Linked DNA regions of Homo sapiens: region 1 is linked to region 2. The links come from fine-mapping of genetic effects on gene expression. A gene starts in region 2. The other region holds a variant in brackets. All regions are shown on one strand. Distances are between the middles of the regions. Region 1 has its middle 4.7 kb from the start of RALGPS1. Region 2 holds the start of ZBTB34 (zinc finger and BTB domain containing 34).

Region 1 (5,135 bases), 49 kb after region 2:
TATTTTTCAGACTCTGGAAAATATGTGCCCAGCACAGCATTCTCCTCCATGGGGGTCTTTTCCCAGGTTGCTGTCAGTGAAATCTTTAGCATGTGAGCCACCACCTTGTTCCAGGGACTATCTGTGCTCCAGCAGGAGGGTATTCTCTTTGCCTATTGAGCAGTGGGTGAATCATCCCAAATCCACATCTCACCACCTATTTTCACTGCCTATTCCTGGGGCTTCTTGCGTCTGTCCAGGTTCACTAAGGAGCAGGTGCCATAACAGAATTAAACATGCAAGGATTGGCTGAGTGTGGTGGCTCACGCCTGTAATTCCAGCACTTTGGGAAGCCAAGGCGGGCAGATCACGAGGTCAGGAGTTCGAGACCAGCCTGGCCAATATGGGGAAACCCCGTCTTTACTAAAAATACAAAAATTAGCCGGGCGTGGCAGTGCACGCCTGTAGTCCCAGCTACTCAGGAGGCAGAGGCAGGAGAATCGCTTGAACCCGGGAGGCGGAGGTTGAGTGAGCTGAGATCGCACCACTGCACTCTAGTCGGGGAGACAGAGTGAGACTCTGTCTCAAAAAAACAAAAAAACGTGCAAGGATTTTATCAGGGGGAAATGGGTTGAGAGAGCCAGCAGACTGTGAATCAAGTCTGACCTCAAGTAAAGGAGAGAGGGAAGGGAGTGTGTGGAAGCATCCCATACTGCCACACAGTCCAACAAAGCGTCAGCAAGGCTGTCGGGCTGTCTTTGAGCCAAAGATTATCTATCACCAGAGGACTCCCATTGTCACCCGGGGCCAGGCCTGCCTTAGTATTCCTGCCATGGTCAGTCATTGGGTGCAGCCCATGGGTAACATGGCTTTGGTGCCAATGCTTTGATGGATTTCAGAGTGCAGAAGCTGAGCCCTTGGTCAAATAACCTCCCTATAGTTGGAAGTCTGCCAGGTGCATACTCATGGTCACTATAGGATTAACTCACTTTTCCTCAGGAGCACCCTGTAAGATAGGTACTCTGGATATTATCTTCTCAGAAATGAGAAAACCGAGGCATAAAGAGCTTTGGACACTTGTCCAAGGCCACATAGATGGGAATGGAAAAGCCAAGATCGTTTCCTAGAACTGACCAAATTCAAAATTTCACTCTCAGTCCCTATTCTTCCACCTCCTTCCTGCTTCCCATAGTGATGCCTGCTTTCCCTGACGCCCCTTGGTGGCACCTCACCATTGTACCTGTGTGCACAGGAAAAGCACCTGTGTCCCTAATGACAGTGCTCTTTCCTGCGCCCTATTTTCTGTCTTCTGATGCCCCCAGAGATACCAGCCACCAGGATCTGGAGGATACTTTATTCCAGAATCCTTATAACACCTGGGTGTTGATGGCCTCTGAGCAGGAGCTACCTCTTAGGCAACAGAAAAGAGTGGGTTATGGCCTGTATTAGTTATCTTTTGCTGTGTAACAATTTTATCCCAAATGTGGCAGCTTAAAATAACACACATTTATTATCTCAATGTTTCTATAGGTTAGGGACAGCTTTGCTAGGCCCTCTTCTTCAGAGTCTCACAGGCTATAATCAAGGTGTTGGCTGTGGCTGCAGTCACATCTGAGGCTCAACAGTTGAAGGATCTGCTTCTGAGCTCATGTGATTATTGGCAGCATTCTGTTCCTTTCAGGCTGCTGGGCTGAGGGCCCCAGATTCATTGTTTCTTTCTTTCTTTCTTTCTTTCTTTCTTTCTTTCTTTCTTTCTTTTTTTTTGAGACGGAGTCTCACTGGGTCGCCTAGGCTGGAGTGCAGTGGCACAATCTCGGCTCACTGCAACCTCTGCCTCCTGAGTTCGAGTGATTCTCTTAACTCAGCCTCCTGAGTAGCTGGGATTACAGGTGTGTGCCACAATGCCCGGCTTATTTTTGTATTTTTAGTAGAGATGGGGTTTCACCATGTTGGTCAGGCTGGTCTCGAACTTCTGACCTCATGATCTGCCCGCCTCGGGCTCCCAAAGTGCTGGGATTACAGGTGTGAGCCACCGTGCTCGGCCAAAGGCCCCCCCAGTTTCCTGCTGGCTGTTGGCTGGAGCCTGCCCTCCGTTCCTTGCTGCGTGGTCTTCTCTATAGGGCAGCTCACACCATGGTGGCTTAGATCTTCAAGGCCAGCAAGAGAGTCTCCTAGCAAGATGGGTTACAGTTTTCTGTAATGCAATCACATACCTCCTAAAGCCTTTGGCTCATTCTATTGGCTAGGAGCAAGTCAGGTCCTGCCCACACAAGGGCAGGGACATAATGAGGTGGGCATTATGGGGACACCTTAGAGTCTGTCTGTCACACCTTCCTTATGGGTCAGCA[T/A]CTCTAATGAGAACAACTCCTTGAACCTTCCCAAGTTTGGCTCTCCATGAAGTATAAGTTTGTGCAAAGACAGCCGGGTTGAGGCTTGACCCTTGGTGATTTCTCCAATCCTCCTTTCCTCCTGTGGCTCAAAAGTTCCTTTCCCTCATGGAGAGTGACTCAAACACATCAGATACTAAGAATGTGCCCATTTCACCAGCACATCACACTTTGACAGTGAACTCTAGTGGGCACAGCTAAGATCCTCTCCACATCCTGTTACACATATTTAAGCATGGGAATGATGGGATTGACCAGACTTTACAATAACTTCATTTTATTTATTTATTTATTTTTTGAGATGGAGTCTCACTGTATTGCCCAGGCTGGAGTGCAGTGGTGTGTGATCTTGGCTCACTGCAGCCTCCACCTCCTGGGTTCAAGTGATTCTCCTGCCTCAGCCTCCCAAGTAGCTGGGACTACAGGCATGTATCACTGTACCTAGCTAATTTTTGTATTTTTAGTAGAGACGGGGTTTTGCCATGTTGGGCAGGCTGGTTTCAAACTTCTGACCTCAGTTGATCTGCCTGCTTTGGCCTCCCAAAGTGCTGGAATTACAGGTGTGAGCCACTGCGCCTGGCCAACAATAACTTTAAAAAATAGCTTTATTGGCCAGGTGTGGTAGCTCACACCTATAATCCCAGTACTTTAGGAGGCCGAGTCGGGCGGATCATGAGGTCAGGAGATCGAGACCACCCTGGCCCTGTCTCTACTAAAAATACAAAACATTAGCCGGGTGTGGTGGCACCCACCTATAGTCCCAGCTACTTGGGAGGCTGAGGCAGGAGAATCACTTGAACCCGGGAGGCGGAGGTTGCAGTGAGCCGAGATTGTGCCACCTCACTCCAGCCTGGGCAACAGAATGAGACTCCGTCTCAAAAAAAAAAAAAAAAAAAAGCTTTATTGAGATATAATTAACCCACTTAGAGAGTATAATTCGGCCAGACATGGTGGCTCATGCCTGTAATCCCAGCATTTTGGGAGGCCGAGGCGGGCAGATCACTTGAGGTCAGGAGTTCAGAACCAGACTGCCAACAAGGCGAAACCCTGTCTCTACAAAAATACAGAAATTAGCCAGGTGTGGTGGCATACACCTGCAGTCCCAGCTACTCAGGAGGCTGAGGCAGGAGAATTGCTCGAACCCAGGAGGCAGAAGCTGCAGTGAGCTGAGATCGTGCCACTGCACTCCAGCCTGCACAACAGAGTGAGACTGTTAAAAAAAAAAAAAAAAAAGAAAGAAAAGAAAAAGAAAGAGAAAAAAAGAAAAAAAAAGAGCGAGAGTATAATTCAATGGCTTTTAGTATATTCAGAGTTTTACAACCATCACCACAATTAATTTTAGAACACTTTCATCCTCTTCCAAAGAAACTCCTAAGTTGTTGCCCCTAAATCCTCCTCTCCTTCAGCCTTAGACAGCCACTTTGTCTACCCTCCATCTCTATAGATTTGCTTATTACGGACATTTCATATAAAAGGGATCATATAATACGTGGTCTAGCTTCTTTCGCTTAGCATGTTTTTAAGTTTCATCCATGTCGTAGCATGCATCAGTACTTCATTTCCTTGTATAGACAAACCATATTTTATTTATCTATTCATCACTTGATAGACATTTGGGTTATTCACATTTTTTGATATTGTGAATGATGCTGCCGTGAACACCTGTCTACAAGTTTTTGTGCAGACATGTTGTGTCCATTTCTTCTTGGGTGGTAAGTAGGAGTGGAGTGATTGAGTCATATGCTAACTCTATGTTTTCTAAAGTGGTTGTACCATTTTATATTTCCACCAGCAGTGTATAAGGGTTCCATTCTCTCTCTCTCTTTTTTTTTTTTTTTTTGAGAGGGAGTTTCACTCTTGTCCTCCAGACTGGAGTGCAATGGCGCCATCTCAGCTCACTGCAACCTCCACTTCCCAGGTTCGAGTGATTTTCTTGCCTCAGCTGGGATTATAGCCACTTGCCACCACACCCAGCTAATTTTTTTGTATTTTTAGTAGAGATGGGGTTTCACCATGTTGGCCAGGCTGGTCTTGAACTCCTGACCGCAGGTGATCCACCCACCTTGGGAGACAGGCGTGAGCCACCACGCCCAGCCAAGGGTTCTATTCTCTTCACCTTCTCATCAACACTTGTTATTGTCTATCTTATTTGTTGTAGCCATCCTAATGGGTGTGAAGTGGTATCTCATTGTGGTTTTGATTTGCATTTTCCTAATGGCTAATGATATTGAGCACTTTTTCATGTGCTTATTGACCACTGTGTATCTTCTTTGGAGAAATGTCTATTCAGATCCTTCTCTCTCTCTCTCTTTCTCAGACTGCACTTGGCTTTATTGCTTTAAGAAACCTATTATTTCTCGCTTATCACCATCTAAACTTTTCTGTCTTCTTTAACGTTGAACTCCCTTCTTCCTTGCTTCATTTTACTCCCATAGCACTTTTCTCTATCTAGCCTACTACTGTAAATATTGATTTTAATAGCTGCCTTACCCCACTAGAATGTCAACTCCACGAGGACAAGAATTTTTGTCTCTTTTATTCACTGCTGTTTTCTCAGCATTTACAGTAGCACTTGGCGCATAGCAGAGAACCATTAGATATTTGTAGAAAGAATGAATACATCCTTCTGGAAGCATCAAGAATCAATATTAAATGACCTTTCCTCATTTTAAAATTGGGTTTATAATAACTTCTAATATATCACAAAAGAATCTGTGTTCATTGAAAAAACTTAGAAAGTATGCATAAGCATAATAAAAGTATAGATGC
Region 2 (5,000 bases):
AAATTAAAATGAGACTTGTACATCACTCCCTAGACTTCTTGATTTCAAGGGAGCTAACGAGTTAAATCATTTAAAACTGCCACAAAGATTATGGGAAAACAGAAACACATATGCACCTCAACTGTGGAGGAGTGACAGTTTTTTAACTAAAATTAGTAGAGACCATGACAATCAGCTAAACAACAAGAACGAAAAAAGCAAGGGGCTGGAAAAATATATAAATGATGAGTTTGGTGACCCAGTTAGGTGGGAGAGTAAATATAAACTATGAGGGAAATACCCAGCATCCAATGGACAGACAGAGGGCCAACAACTTTGAGACACTTGGCAGAGGAGGGTCAAAAACTCAGGAACTATTTTAGTCTTTATAGTACTTAATGATATGCAAATATTGTGTCACAGCCAAGAAGACCCTAACTCTTATCAACGAATTTAGCAAAAATCAGTTAAAATGATGAGGCCCAAGGCTGATCTGTAGGAAAACCTCTGGGCATAAGAATCAGCTCAGCAGTCCGGAGGAAACCTGACAAGATGATGTATTCCTGTGCCCTGGGTGCACACGTATCTCACCCTTGGGGACAGATCTCAAGAAAACAACTCAAGTGCAATAGCAATTCAAGAGCGAGACTACCTGTCTGCCCAGGTGCCTGCAGTTATAGGCAGGTTGCCTAAAATCCTATGCTTGGATGTTCTGTTGCTATAAGAAGTCAGAGAGACAAGGGAGTTCATCCCAAGTCTGCCATTTACTAGCTGTGTGACTTTGGATAAGTCACTCAACCTCTCTGAGCCTCAGTTCCCTCTTGGATTAAAATGGGAATAGATCGCCACCTCCTTAGGTTGTGTTAAATGAGGTCATGGCTGTCAAGTGTCTACACAGTGCCCTGCATGGAGTGTTTGACAAAGGGTAGCTGTTGCTATTGGAGGATGACCACTGGACAGATCCTGGAGAGACAGTTCCTGCTTGCAAAGGATGAAGTAACATCAGGAAGTCTCAGCAGCTTTCTATCCTGAAGAGGAGCTGGTATCTTTGCCTCCTAGTTTATTTTTATTACAAAGCCAGAAAAAGGAAAATAAACCTCTGCCACAACTACTGACTCCACCAAAATGCAAAGGGAAGCTCTTCAAAGAGTGTTACATTGGTCTAATGCTGGGAGGAAAACGCTGGGTGAGGCTCCCACTCCCACCCAACGGTTTGAAGACTGGGGTGTCCCCAAGGGTCTGGAAATGCACATTTTTTGAGGCATGCTCTGTGACATGGGTTTTATAACAGTGAGTTGGGAATTTTCACCTCCGTTTTGTTTTTGAGACAGGGTCTTGCTCTTTCACCACTGCTGAAGTACAGTGACACGATCATGGCTCATCGCAGCCTCGACCTCCCGGACTCAAGCGACCCTCCCACCTCAGCCTCCCCAATAGCTGGAACTACAGGCATGTGCCACCAAGCCTGGCTAAGTTTTAAAAATTTAAATGGGGCCTCCCTATGTTGCCCAGGCTGGTCTCAAACTCCTAGGATCAAGTGATCCTCCCGCCTCGCCCTCCCAAAGTGCTGGGATTACAGGCGGGAGCCACCTCCGTTTTGAGAGAGAGAAAACCTGCCCAAGGTGGTAAGTCAAGAGACCCCCTATGACAGGTCCCCAGAGCCCTGCTGCTAACCACTGCACCTTGCTGCCTTCAGCTGCCCTGCCAGGAGCAGCTCGGGTGCGTGGCATGCGCCTGAAGAGATGCAGGAGGGAGGGTCTTGGAAGGGAGGGCTGGGCTGGGGGCAGGCCCCCCAGTGCTGGGGGGGTCGAGGGTCCTGGGCTCTCTCCCACCCGTTCGATTCCGGGAGCCCCTGAAACGCGCCCCACTGCACCGCCCTTCTCCCGCCAGCAGGGGGCGCCGAGGAGAGCGCGGGCTGAAGGCAGAGCCGACGCCGCTTCCCGGAGTCGGGACTCCGGGGTCCAGACCAAGGCTGCCGCTAGCCCGCGGCGAGGCTCTGGGACGACAACCGGGCGGGACTCAGGACCCCGGGCCCTGGCTAGAGGTCCGCCGCGCAACGCCACCACCCGGGTTGGCGCCTGCCCGGAAGCGCGGGCGTCCAGGGGGCGGGGCCGGGAAGCGCTTCCGGGGGCGGGGGGCGCGGGCTGGGGCGGCAGCCGGAGCGGCGGGGACTGGCCTGGCGCCGGCGGCGGCGGAGGGGGCGCCGCGGGCGGGCGATGTGAGCGCGGCGCTCTGGACAGGTGAGGCACGCTGGCCGGGGGCGGCGAGCAGCGGGCTAGGCGCGGGCGGGGCAGGCGGGGCAGGCGGGGCGGGGGGCAGTCCCCGGGCCGCTGTCCGGCTCCCTCTGGGCGCGGCGGGGCGGGAGCCTCCGCGCCTGGTCAGTCCCGCGGGCAGGCGGCCGGCGCGGGCGGGAGCCGAGGCCGGGCGGGGTCCGGAGGCCCCGGGCACCTGCTGGGGTCAGGCGCGCGTCCCCGAGGGGCCAGCTGTGCTCGGTCCTGGAGTCCCGGCGCCGCTGGCCCGGCTGAGGGTCGCGCTCGGGCAGCTGCCCTGGGCTCCCAGCCTCCGCCCGGGGCGTCTCGGGATCCCCAGCTTCCGGGCCCCTAGCCCTGGGGGCGCTCCCTTTTGTACGGGGAGGGAGGGCAGATGGTTGAGTTCCCTGGAGAGCCGGCCGGGCCAGGGGTCGGCCCTTCGGGTGGCTGCCACGGAGCCGCTGCCTCACGCCACCGCCTTCCTCCAGGTAAACAGGCGGCGGCGACGGGTTGCGCTTGGCCCCAGACGTCTCCGTGGCCACTCGCGCTCAGTTGGTCCTGCCATTGCGGAGGGCTGGGCTGGGGCTGACCGGGGTTGTAAACAGTGCCCTTCTAGGCCAAGTGGCTGTGCTTTCAGGGCGGCACTCGTCTGGGAGTCTCTGTCTTGAGGCCTTCCGCAAGCCCCTTCCATGCTAGGACTCAGTTTCCCCATGTGATCATTGAGGGTTTCATTTAACTCTCTAAGAACCCTTCTGGCTCTGCCATTCCGTGTATGTCTCAAATTGGAAGGGCTGTCCCTGATTCAAGATACTGGGCAGTTTCGCTGAAGACTTTGTCAGTGTGGACTTTTTAAGCCACTTACTGCATTTTGTTTCAGACAGGCTTTAAAATGATTTCAAGAAGCGTTTTCTAAACCTCACCTTAATCCTCATTCATCCCTTGCTTTTGTCCCTAGTAGTAGTTAATCACATTCCGCCGAGTTTTTGCATGCAGAATTTTTTGTTGTTTATATTTGCCCATTTTCTCTTTGTTCCCTAGTCCAGGCCCTCTTTGCTTCACATCTGGATTATTGCAACAGCTTCTAAGCTGGTCGCTGACTCCAGAGGTTCCCCCCTCCCCCATCCTTCCTTTATGCTAAAGCCAAACTTACTATAGGAAGTCAAAAAATAGTTGAGTGCTTGCTTGCTTATTAAATGGCAAGATGCTGTTCCATGTGGTGGGAAAGTAGTAGAAGGCACACTTACAGTCTCCAGGCAGCTTTACACAGGGTGCTGAGACATTACTTATGAAAAGGTAATTTTGATGAGACAAGGCTGTGTGCTGTAGAATTAAGAAGGAGAGATGGAGGTCACTGTAGGCCGAGTGGTTAGGGAGGGTTTAGTGAGGGGCGGGATTTGAGCCGGGTGTTAAAGGATGAGTAGCATTCAGATAGGAAAAGAGGAATCAGGCCCAGTGATCCTATGGAGTTAGTGAATAGACCAGTCTCCTGGCAGAGAAGGGTTCATATAGGAGGGAAGTAGGAGGAGAGGTGGGCCGCGGCTAGTTCCTCAACTCAAACACTAGGTCAAAGTTGAAACTACTGAAGGCATTGGTGAAGAAGCTAGAGGCCAGGAGATCAGTTAAGAGGCCACGGCAGTTATACCACTGTTCAAAGCTGAGTAGTGGCCTCTTGCCTGCCACGGTATGTCCAGCCACCGCCCACCCTGTCTTTTCAAGACTCTCCGTGGTTTGGCCCCACCCCACCTACCTGAACCTTATTCTCTGCTTCTCCAAGTCTGTCCCCTGCAGAACTGAGTTAGTTACGGCTTCTTGGGTTTTGCTTCTGTTGTTCCCCCTTCTGAAGCACTGGCCTCCTTTTTCTTTTCTGTGCAAATTCTCCATTTCACTTCCTTCAAGCCCCTGCTGCAGATATACTTCCTCCAGAGGGTGTTCCCTGACTTCCCTGCCCCCATGGCTTTGTGGCACTCGGATTCAGCACTTGTTCCTTGGCTGTTGAACTTGTTCTTGTCCCAACTGGAGTGGGAGTTTTTTTAAGGGCATTGTGTCTTAATACTCCTCTCGGAGACCTTATAGTATCTAATACTGGGGCTGGACTTCTATAATAGGTACTCAAATACTTCCTGATTTTTGTTGGTAAACAACTTTTTGTTTTGTTTTGTAATTTGCCTTTTTTTTTTTTTAAGGAGAATCTGTTTTTATCAGCTTTCTGTGTCATAGATAAGTGATATGTAATGCTACCATTCAAGGTGGATGTTTTCAGCTTGCTCTCTTAGGGTGCAGAAAGCACAAAACGAATCTTTGAAACTTTGAAACGTTTCCCTCTGATCATGGGAAAAGGTAAAAGTCATGTGATTCTTCATTCGGAGGCTGTGGGGAAAGAACAGCAGCTTTGGAATCAGAGACCTGGGTTTGAATCCTAGCAAGTCTGCTTACCAGCTCTGTGAAGTTGAGCAATTTATCTAATGCCTCTGAGCCTCCGTTTCTTATTTGCAGTGTGGAGGATAATAAAATCCAATGAACTGTAAACGAAAATGGAACGAAGTAGAAAAATGTGCAGCACCTAGTAACTGCTTAGTACATTTTCATTATTGTTATTGTCATTATTGGGTGTACATTTATCAAGGTGGAGAAATGATAAGCTGCTGAACTGTGTACCTACTGAGTTTTGGATTTCTGCACCGCTGTGTCCCCCCACTTTTGCCTTCCATTTGAAGCACTTGTCTAAAATGTCAGTACCATGAATCTAGTTACGTTTTATTCCCGTTAATGTTC

Evidence for each region.
Region 1: its variant is fine-mapped to the expression of ZBTB34 in whole blood (INTERVAL, PIP 0.94).

What each region holds. Positions count from the first base shown.
Region 1 is chr9:126,907,489-126,912,623 of GRCh38, forward strand. No RefSeq gene overlaps it. Among named protein-coding and RNA genes, the nearest start is that of RALGPS1, 4.7 kb to the right of the region's middle. The variant T/A (reference allele first, on the strand shown) is at 2,328.
Region 2 is chr9:126,858,521-126,863,520 of GRCh38, forward strand. ZBTB34 (zinc finger and BTB domain containing 34) reads left to right here and starts at 2,119. Exons shown (of 2, transcript NM_001099270.4): 1 at 2,119-2,219. RefSeq lists silencers at 1,738-2,137, 2,168-2,247, 2,258-2,307, 2,418-2,637 and an enhancer at 2,262-3,059.